Linked DNA regions of Homo sapiens: regions 1 and 3 are each linked to region 2. Evidence: fine-mapped expression QTL. A gene starts in region 2. Each other region holds a variant in brackets. All regions are shown on one strand. Distances are between the middles of the regions.

Evidence for each region. PIP is the estimated chance that this variant, and not a neighbour inherited with it, causes the effect.
Region 1: its variant is fine-mapped to the expression of TATDN2 in aorta (GTEx, PIP 0.92).
Region 3: its variant is fine-mapped to the expression of TATDN2 in sun-exposed skin (GTEx, PIP 0.99).

What each region holds. Positions count from the first base shown.
Region 1 is chr3:11,237,284-11,240,046 of GRCh38, reverse strand. All of the region lies in intron 1 of HRH1 (histamine receptor H1), which reads right to left. Among named protein-coding and RNA genes, the nearest start is that of ATG7, 34 kb to the left of the region's middle. The variant G/T (reference allele first, on the strand shown) is at 1,350.
Region 2 is chr3:10,247,178-10,249,940 of GRCh38, reverse strand. TATDN2 (TatD DNase domain containing 2) reads right to left here and starts at 1,482. Exons shown (of 8, transcript NM_014760.4): 1 at 874-1,482; 2 at 327-746. The coding sequence starts at 740. RefSeq lists an enhancer at 46-914 and a silencer at 1,167-1,596.
Region 3 is chr3:11,185,171-11,187,933 of GRCh38, reverse strand. All of the region lies in intron 1 of HRH1 (histamine receptor H1), which reads right to left. Among named protein-coding and RNA genes, the nearest start is that of HRH1, 32 kb to the right of the region's middle. The variant G/A (reference allele first, on the strand shown) is at 1,103.

The DNA.
Region 1 (2,763 bases), 990 kb before region 2:
AAGTTATCTCTGACCCAGAACAAACCAGTCAGCCCAGTTCTCTCTTCTGGAACACTGGAATTGGAGTTGTGCCATCAAGACAGTCTGTTGGTCTCACATATCTGATATATCATATATCTGATGTATCAAGAAGACAAATGAAACAATTGAATAATTGACATCATTTAAAAACTAAAAGATTTCATGCAAAATCTCCAGATTTTATAAGTGGGGTTAAGTGGGGGTGGGGGGCTGCCACTGGGGGCAAGAGGAGGAGTGTTGCTCACCTCTGGGAATGCTAAAATAGAGGAGGGGATAGAAGAAGGCAGCAGACAAAATGCAATAATTCATATGCTGGAACAACCGAGATCTACCAGCAGAAGGATGAATTTAGACCTTTCCCTTATATCATACACAAAAATTACTCATAATTGATGATAGTCCTAAATGTATGAGCTAAATTTTTGTGACCTTGAGTTAGGCAAAGATTTCTGAGACACAGCACCAAAGGCATAAGGAATTTTTAAAAACTGCTAAATTGGACTTCATCAAGATGAGAAACTTTTGGGTTTCAAGAGGTACCACTAAGAAAATGAAAAGCTATGGAATGGAAGAAAATATTTATAGGTCATATATCTGATATATCATATATCTGATGTATCCAAAATACACAAAGAACACTTCCAACTCAATCATAAGAAGATAAATAACCCAATTTATAAATAGGCAAAGGATTTATATAGACATTTCACCAAATAAGATAGAGGAATGGCTCAAAAGCACATGAAAGGATGTTCAACATCATTAGTCATTAGGGAAATGAAAATCAAAACCACAGTGAGATACCACTTCACATGGACTAGGATGACTATAATTTAAAAAGAAGGACAATAACAAGTGTTGGTGAAGATGTGGAGAAAGAAGAACTCTGAAACACTGCTGGTGGAAATGTCAAATGGTGCAGCTACTGTGAAAAGCAATCTGATAGTTCTTCAAATGGTTAAACATAGTTACCATATGACTCAGTGATTCCACACCTAGATATATACCCAAGAGAACTAATCGTGTGACCACAGAAAAACTTGTATGCAGATACTCATAGCATTATTCATAACCACCAAAAAGTGGAAAAAAACCAAATGTTCATCAACTGGTGAATGGATTTTGATTAAAATGTGGTCCATTTGTCAATAAAAAGAAACACAGTACTGTTCCAAGCTACACCATGGGTGAACTGGAAAAACATCATGCTAGGTGAATGAAGCCAGACACAAAAGGCAACACATTGAATGATTCCATTTATATGAAACGTCCAGAATTGGCAAATTTATAGAGACAGAGAATAGATTAGTGGTTGCCTGGTAGTGGAG[G/T]GGGGGACAGGAAGGGATCTTTTGGAAAAAACAGAAATGTTCTAAACTTGGATTCTGATGATGTTTATACAACTCTGTACATTTACTAACGATAACTGAATTGTATGATTCACTTAGAATGGGTGAATTTTATGATAGGTAAATTACACCTCAATCAAGTTGTTTTTAAAATTTTTCAGTGGATGAAGAAAGAGGCTGCTCTGGGTTCCAGATCTGTCTGTTTTTAAAATCTATTTCACTACACCAGTGCTGGGAAACAGGATCAGCTATAAGATTCTTCAGTTTCATTTAAATGAAAACAAACTAGTTGCTTAGCGGAAGAACTGCTTTAGCCAGAACCAAGATTTAGATAAAATAGATATCATGATTTCTTGTGAAAGGGGCAGTGAGATGTTATGCGTAACTTCTAAATTAGTCATCAGAAGTGGAAGGAGAGGAATGACTGAGCTACATCAAACCCTTTCCTCCCGCACATCTGTGATCTTTCTCATTTTATAATTTGGTTTAAGAGATTGAACTTGTTTGATTGTTTGTCTGCTCCCCACAACCCCCAGCCCTGGTGTGACAGGCTGGGATTTTTAAAGCTAAGTGCAGGAAAGGGAAACTGAAGGATATTATCACTAAATGGCAAAACAAACAAACAAACAAACAAACAAACAAAGGCAGCATTAAAAGCCCAGCTCAGTTATCTCTTACTTTCTGACCTCAAAAAGCAAGGGAGAGGCTGGGCGCAGTGGCTCACGCCTACAATCCCAGCACTTTGGGAGGCTGAGGTGGGCAGATCACAAGGTCAGGAGTTCGAGACCACCCTGGCCAATATGGTGAAACTCCGTCTCTACTAAAAATACAAAAAAATTAGCAGGGCGTGGTGGCGCATGCTTGTAATCCCAGCTACTCGGGAGGCTGAGGCAGGAGAATTGCTTGAACCTGGGAGGTAGAGGTTGCAGTGAGCTGAGATCACGCCACTGCACTCCAGCCTGGTTGACAGAGCAAGACTCCATCTCAAAAAAAAAAAAAAAAAAAAAAAAAAAAAGGAAAAGAAAAAGAAAAGAAATATTTTCAGGATTGCATCAGGCTGGGAGAGTTTCCATATTGCATCGTTTAATCCTCAATCGTTTAATCCTTAATCGTTTACCGTGCTGGTAACCTCACCAAAATAATTCTGCCCCCAGCCTCCCATTTTAATGATGTGGAAAGAGAGGCTTCTGGAGTTTTTAGGGCTTGGTGCCTGCACTAAGAGATCCCAGAGTGACTGAAGAGCAAGTTTCACTTAAAGGCCCAGGTGGCACCCATCTGCTAAGACCTTCCAGTGAACTTCACATACTCCCCCCACTCCATCCTCTTTTCCATTGTGAAGAGAGGGAAATAAATAAACACTTTAAATAAAGATTCCAGGGAATTGAAAACATGGACA
Region 2 (2,763 bases):
GCACTGAAAAATCTGGAAGCCCAGACCACACCTCAGCCCAATAAATCAGTTTCTCTGGAGTAGGAGGCAGGCCCAAGTATTTTAAAGCTTTCCAAGTAGTTCCAAAGTGCTGCCGAGTTTGAAAATTACCTCTCTACTTAACTTCAGGCCACGCGCCTGGAAGACTGCTAGGTCTTCGAGTTTGGGGGGAGTGGACTTCTAGAAAGACCTTCCAGACCTTCAAGGATGTAATGTTTTGTAGTCTCCTTCCACCAAAATTCCCATCCCCAACCTCTCAAGCCATGTGGAAGGGGCTTCACCGATTGCAAAGCGTGGCAGCCACCTACCTTAAGGCTGCAGGCTTCCTCCTCTAGAGAAGCCATTTCTTCCAAAGAGGCGTTGGCAGGACGCAGAGGGGATCCCCCTGAAGACAGGAACCCCCGAGTGTTCCGAATCAGGCAGCCTTTGGAGGCGGCCCCGCCCACACCAGGGCCCAAGAAATGTGGGGAGAAGGAGGAGGAGGAGTTATTTCTGCGGCGGGATGAGCCCCAGGATAACCTCCGCGAGCAAGCCACATCGTCCTCCTTCTGGGCTTTCAGGCGCTTGGGGCTGCTGGGCCCTCCAGAACGCGACGCAGACCTCTGAGCTGGCCGGCTGGAGGGGGCCACATCACAGGGCTCCCGGAGGCAGCTGCGCTTGCGGGGACACCCTTCCGACGTGCTGCTCCAGTTGTGCTTGACCTTGCCCCGCTCGGACGCCATGGGCACCTGCAAGGTACAGGGGGCCTGGATTCCAACACCACCCTTCCTGGCGACCCCACCTCAGATTCCCGCCACCCCGGGCCCAGGAGGACGGCAAGACATAAGGGCAGAGCCAGGGGCTAGCCTCACTGACCTTTCCCTCTTCTTTCCACTGCCCATCACAGTTCTCAAGGTTTCAGAGATGCCAAACCGTGTTGGAGAAGTCAAAGCGATCCAAAATTGACTAAAGGCTGCCGTCGGTTTCCAAGCCCACAACGTGCTTCTGAGATCAGGAAGCCTTCACTTTGCCCAGCGCTACTTCGGAGATGCCTAAGCGCTTCCGGGGCTACGAAGCGCTTTGATCAGTTTGCAATATAAAGCCCTTTAGAACTGTCAAGCGCTTCAGAAGACCACATGGCGCTTCAAGATCCACACATGGCTGCCGGATCCGCGGCCCCGGGGCCGGGCGCTTAGCCCGTAGGCCAGGGCCAGACCCGGGCGCCGCAGCCCGCCCTGCTCCTGCGGCCCAACCAGACCCGGGCCGGAAGGGGCCCGAGCGGCCCCTCGGGAGCTGGCAGCGCCCTCGACCGCCAACTCAGGACGCCCCCCGCCGGCTGCCGCAGCTGTCCCGCCGGGCAGCCCGCCGCCTGCCCCAGCCCTACAGCCCCGCCTGGCCCGGCCTCCGCCCGAACTGCGACCACTCCGGCCTCCGTGGCGCCCGCCCTCCGGAACGAGCCCTGCGGCCCGCAGGCCGGAGAGCGACAGGGGCGGGGCCTGCGCCAAACGGAAGGCGCCCATTGCTCGACCCGGCAAGGGGCGGGACTCCGAGCAAGACGCAGCCCGCCTCAAAGCCAGGCGCCTTGGAGTCGGGACGGTACGCCTTAGGAAGCTCGTCCATTGGTCAGAAGCCAGATGGGGCGGAGCCACTCACGTGGGCTCGAACAGCGGGAAGTTGAGGCCAGCCAGATGTGCAGGCAGGTGGTGTCCGCTGACGCGCCTCACTTAACGCTGTTTTCCTCAGCGCCGGCCGCTGTACCTGAAGCTTTCAGACCTGGATTTCTCATCGAGCCAAAGCAAACCGTGTACTGAGCATTATCACCCCACTTTATAGAGCAGAAAACTGTGGCTCAGAGAGACTAAGTACACACCCAGAAATGGGAAGAATTAGAATTAGAAGGCACCAAAAAAAAAAAAAAAAAGACTACACAAAAATGTGAACTATCCGCCTGGTGAAAAATATTAAAGACGGCTGGGCACGGTGTCTCACGCCTGCAATCTCAGCACTTTGGAAGACCGAGGCGGGAGGATGGCTTGAGCTCGGGAGTTAGAGACCAGCCTGGCCAGCATGGTGCGACCCCCATCTCTACAAAAAATAAAATTAGCTGGGCGTGATGCCAGCTACTCAGGCTGAGGTGGGAGGATCACTTGAGGCCGGGAGGTCGAGGCTGCAGTGAGCTGTGATCCCGCCACTGCACTCCAGCCTGGAGGACAGAGCAAGACCCTGTCTCAAAAAAGAAAAAAAATCAAAGACAAGGTACAAATTCAGAAAAATACTCGAAACATATGACAAAGGGCTGATATTCGATGTAGCAATTCTCCCAAAATAATAAAATAACTTAGTATTAAGACTGGCAAAGGAGGCTGGGTCCAGTGGCACACGTCTGTAATCCCAGCACTTTGGGAGGCCGAGGTGGGTGGATCTCTTGAGGCAAAGAGTTCGAGACCAGCGTGGGCAACATGGTGAAATCCTGTCTCTAGTGAAACACAAAAATTAGCCTGGTGTGGTGGTGGGCGCCTGTAGTCCCAGCTACTCAGGAGGCTGAGGTGGGAGGATCCCTTGAGCCTGGGAAGTCGAGGGTCCAGTGAGCCAAGATTACTGCCACTGCACTCCAGCCAGGGAGACAAAGTGAGACCCCTGTCTCAGGGAAAAAAAAAAAAAAAGGCAAAGGAAGCAATGAACAAAAACAAATCATGAAACGCTCCTAAATATAAGAAAGATGGCTCCACCTCAACCATTAAAAAAGTACATGTAAGGCCAGGTGTG
Region 3 (2,763 bases), 940 kb before region 2:
AATGTTTAGCAATTGGGAAATGTTAAGTCAATGAGGCAAAAGCAGTTGATGTAACCTTATGCAACCATTACAACTGGAGGCTACAGAGACTTCAGCAACGTGGAAAAACACCTTAAGAAAGAAGAGCAGGACAGAAAACAGAATGTACACCACGTTTACATGTTTACAACAACACAAAAATACAAATCATCGTAGGAGTTGGGATTGAGGGTTGGGATTGAGGATTGATGCTTCCTGAAGACAGGAGTATCATTAGACTTAATGTCCTCATTCCTGTTCCTGCATGCATAAGTTTGCCAAATATGAAATAATGCATACCTGACTTTGCTACAGCATGTGCAGGACTTAGAAACTAAGTATATTTGCATCAGTTATCTCTTCTGACCTTCCCAGAAACCCTCTGGGTGAGCAGGGTAGGTTTTGCCCCCATTTTACAGAATGGGCTCAGTAACGTTGAGTGGTCTGTGCAAGGTCATGTGTTTTATTATTTTTATATATTATTATATTTTTAGATATTATTTTTCTCTTCTTCAAAATGTTTTGTAATTCTATTATATAACCTTTGTAGTTAAAAGAAAAAAAAATTACGGACAGATTTTCAGCTGACTTTCCAAATGGCCCATCCCAGTTTCTTAGGAGCCTCCTATACCCTTTTAACAAATATCTGTGTTTGTGTCACAGGAGACTGAAACTCTTTGCTTAAGTATTAGTAATTCTGTTCAGCAGAGAAAAAGATATCTTTGTCAGTAGTGGAAAGTAGGGCTCACACTTACGATCCTGAAGTTGGGTTATTCCAGGCCAGAGGACCCCCTCTGGCCCCAGCCTCCTCTGAGGCTTGGGAAAGGGAAGGTCTGGAATTGTATAACCCTGAGATTATTTTAAGAACGTCATACCTTCCAGTACTTGCATACTTTTATCTTTTTTAATTTAAATTTTGGATCCATCTGGAATTAATTCTGGAGAAAGGAGTGTGCTGCAATCCAACTTAATATTTTCCAGGTGGTTCTTCAATTGCTCCAAGCCCATTTATTGAATAATCTATCTTTTCTCCAGTGATTTGTAATGCCACCTTTCATACATACTAAATTCCTATCTGCATTTG[G/A]GTCTGTTTCTGAACTGTCTTCTGTGCTGCCTGTCTGCCTGATTACCTAGAGCAGATCCAGGCACTCTCAGACCTAAAAGTGTTAGCCCAAAACAACCTGTGGCACAAAACAGACTAGAAATTAGGTCCCCCAGCCTGTGCTACATGAACACCCATAACTATGTGATGATGGTCCCTTAGCCCTGTGAGAGGAATCAGAGTGGTCTCAGATCCCGACCTCCAAGGCAGGGAGAAGCTCCAGGCATTAAAGTCAGCTCTTCCTTCCTCTTCATTTATTCAGTGAGTAAATGCAACAGTGAGTGGCTCAAGGGGAGATTACTCTTGGGTTAGTTAGCTCACCTCTTGGGGCCTCAGTTTTCACTTCTGCAAAATGGTTATAATAATAATGATATCTATGCCATGCTGCAAGGATCCACTCATCTGATACTGGGCAAAGGTGCAATGGTAAAAGCTGTGGTGATGATGAATAAGGGCACTGGCATGATGGCAGAACAGCTCTCTCCTGTTCTGAAGCAGATAATGCCCATCACTTTGGCTGCAATTTAGCAGGGAGCAAGCGGCATAGCTTTATGACAGCTGCTCAATACATCTAGAGGTCAGGCTGCCCACATCCCAGAGGTATAGAACTCCTACAGGTAGGTCCCTAGAAACAGGAAAAGGTGGAGTTGTCCGGATGCCAAACCTGACTCAGAGCCCAGCATTGAAAGGGCTTAAAACAGGGCTCGATCTTGCTTGGGAGGGGCCCAGGAACCCACTGGAGGCTCTGCAAGGTGGGCAGGAGGAGCAAGGGAATTCTCGGCAGAGCAGGAAATCTGGAAGGGGGTTGGAGGGGGCTGGAGGTCGGGGCTTCCACAGAACACCTAACAAATCTGGTGATGCCATTGCTGGGAGGCATCACATACTCATACGTGGAACTGCCATCTACCCCAGCAAGTGCCGGAGCCCTGGGAAGTCAGGCACAGAGCCCAGAAGTTACCGTAAACAACGTCTGAGTGCCAACATTCCAGGACAGGAATAACAGGCCCCACCCCACCTCCTCCACACATGTGCACCAACACGACACCGCAGGGTTTACAAACACCATCACCACTATTGGCCTGTGTCATCGGAGCTCCCCCAGGAGGGAGGGACTGTCATTATCCCCATTTTCCAGATAGGCAAATGAAGACTCAGACACAGCTCACCCGAGAAAGTGGCAAAGTTACAACTCAGGTCTTCTTGGTCTAAAGGCCAGACCACAAGGCAATCTTGACAGGGGCCAAAGTGGAGTGTCTGTTTAGTCCTCTAGTTGCTCAATAAGCATTCATGGAGCGCCAACTTCATCCTCAACACTGAGAGTGCTGGGTATACAGAGGCAGGTGAGACACAGTTCTTGCTCAAAAGGACCAAATAAATAATTACCCTGCAGTGCCACATTTAATGGGTAGACAAAGTGCTGTGGGAGGTCAGGGGAGTGACTTACTACTTTGAAAATTCAGGGAAGGCTTCCCAGAGGAGGTGACTTATGAGCCAGAACTCGAAGGATGTTTTCATCAGTGAGAAGCAGTTTAGTCCTCAATGAGTGAAAGTGCAGGTTCCTGAGCCTCAGCGCTATGCTCCAGGCTCCTGCCCTCTCTGGCTATCCTTTAGAATTTCCAGGGATGCCTTACCCCAGACTTTCT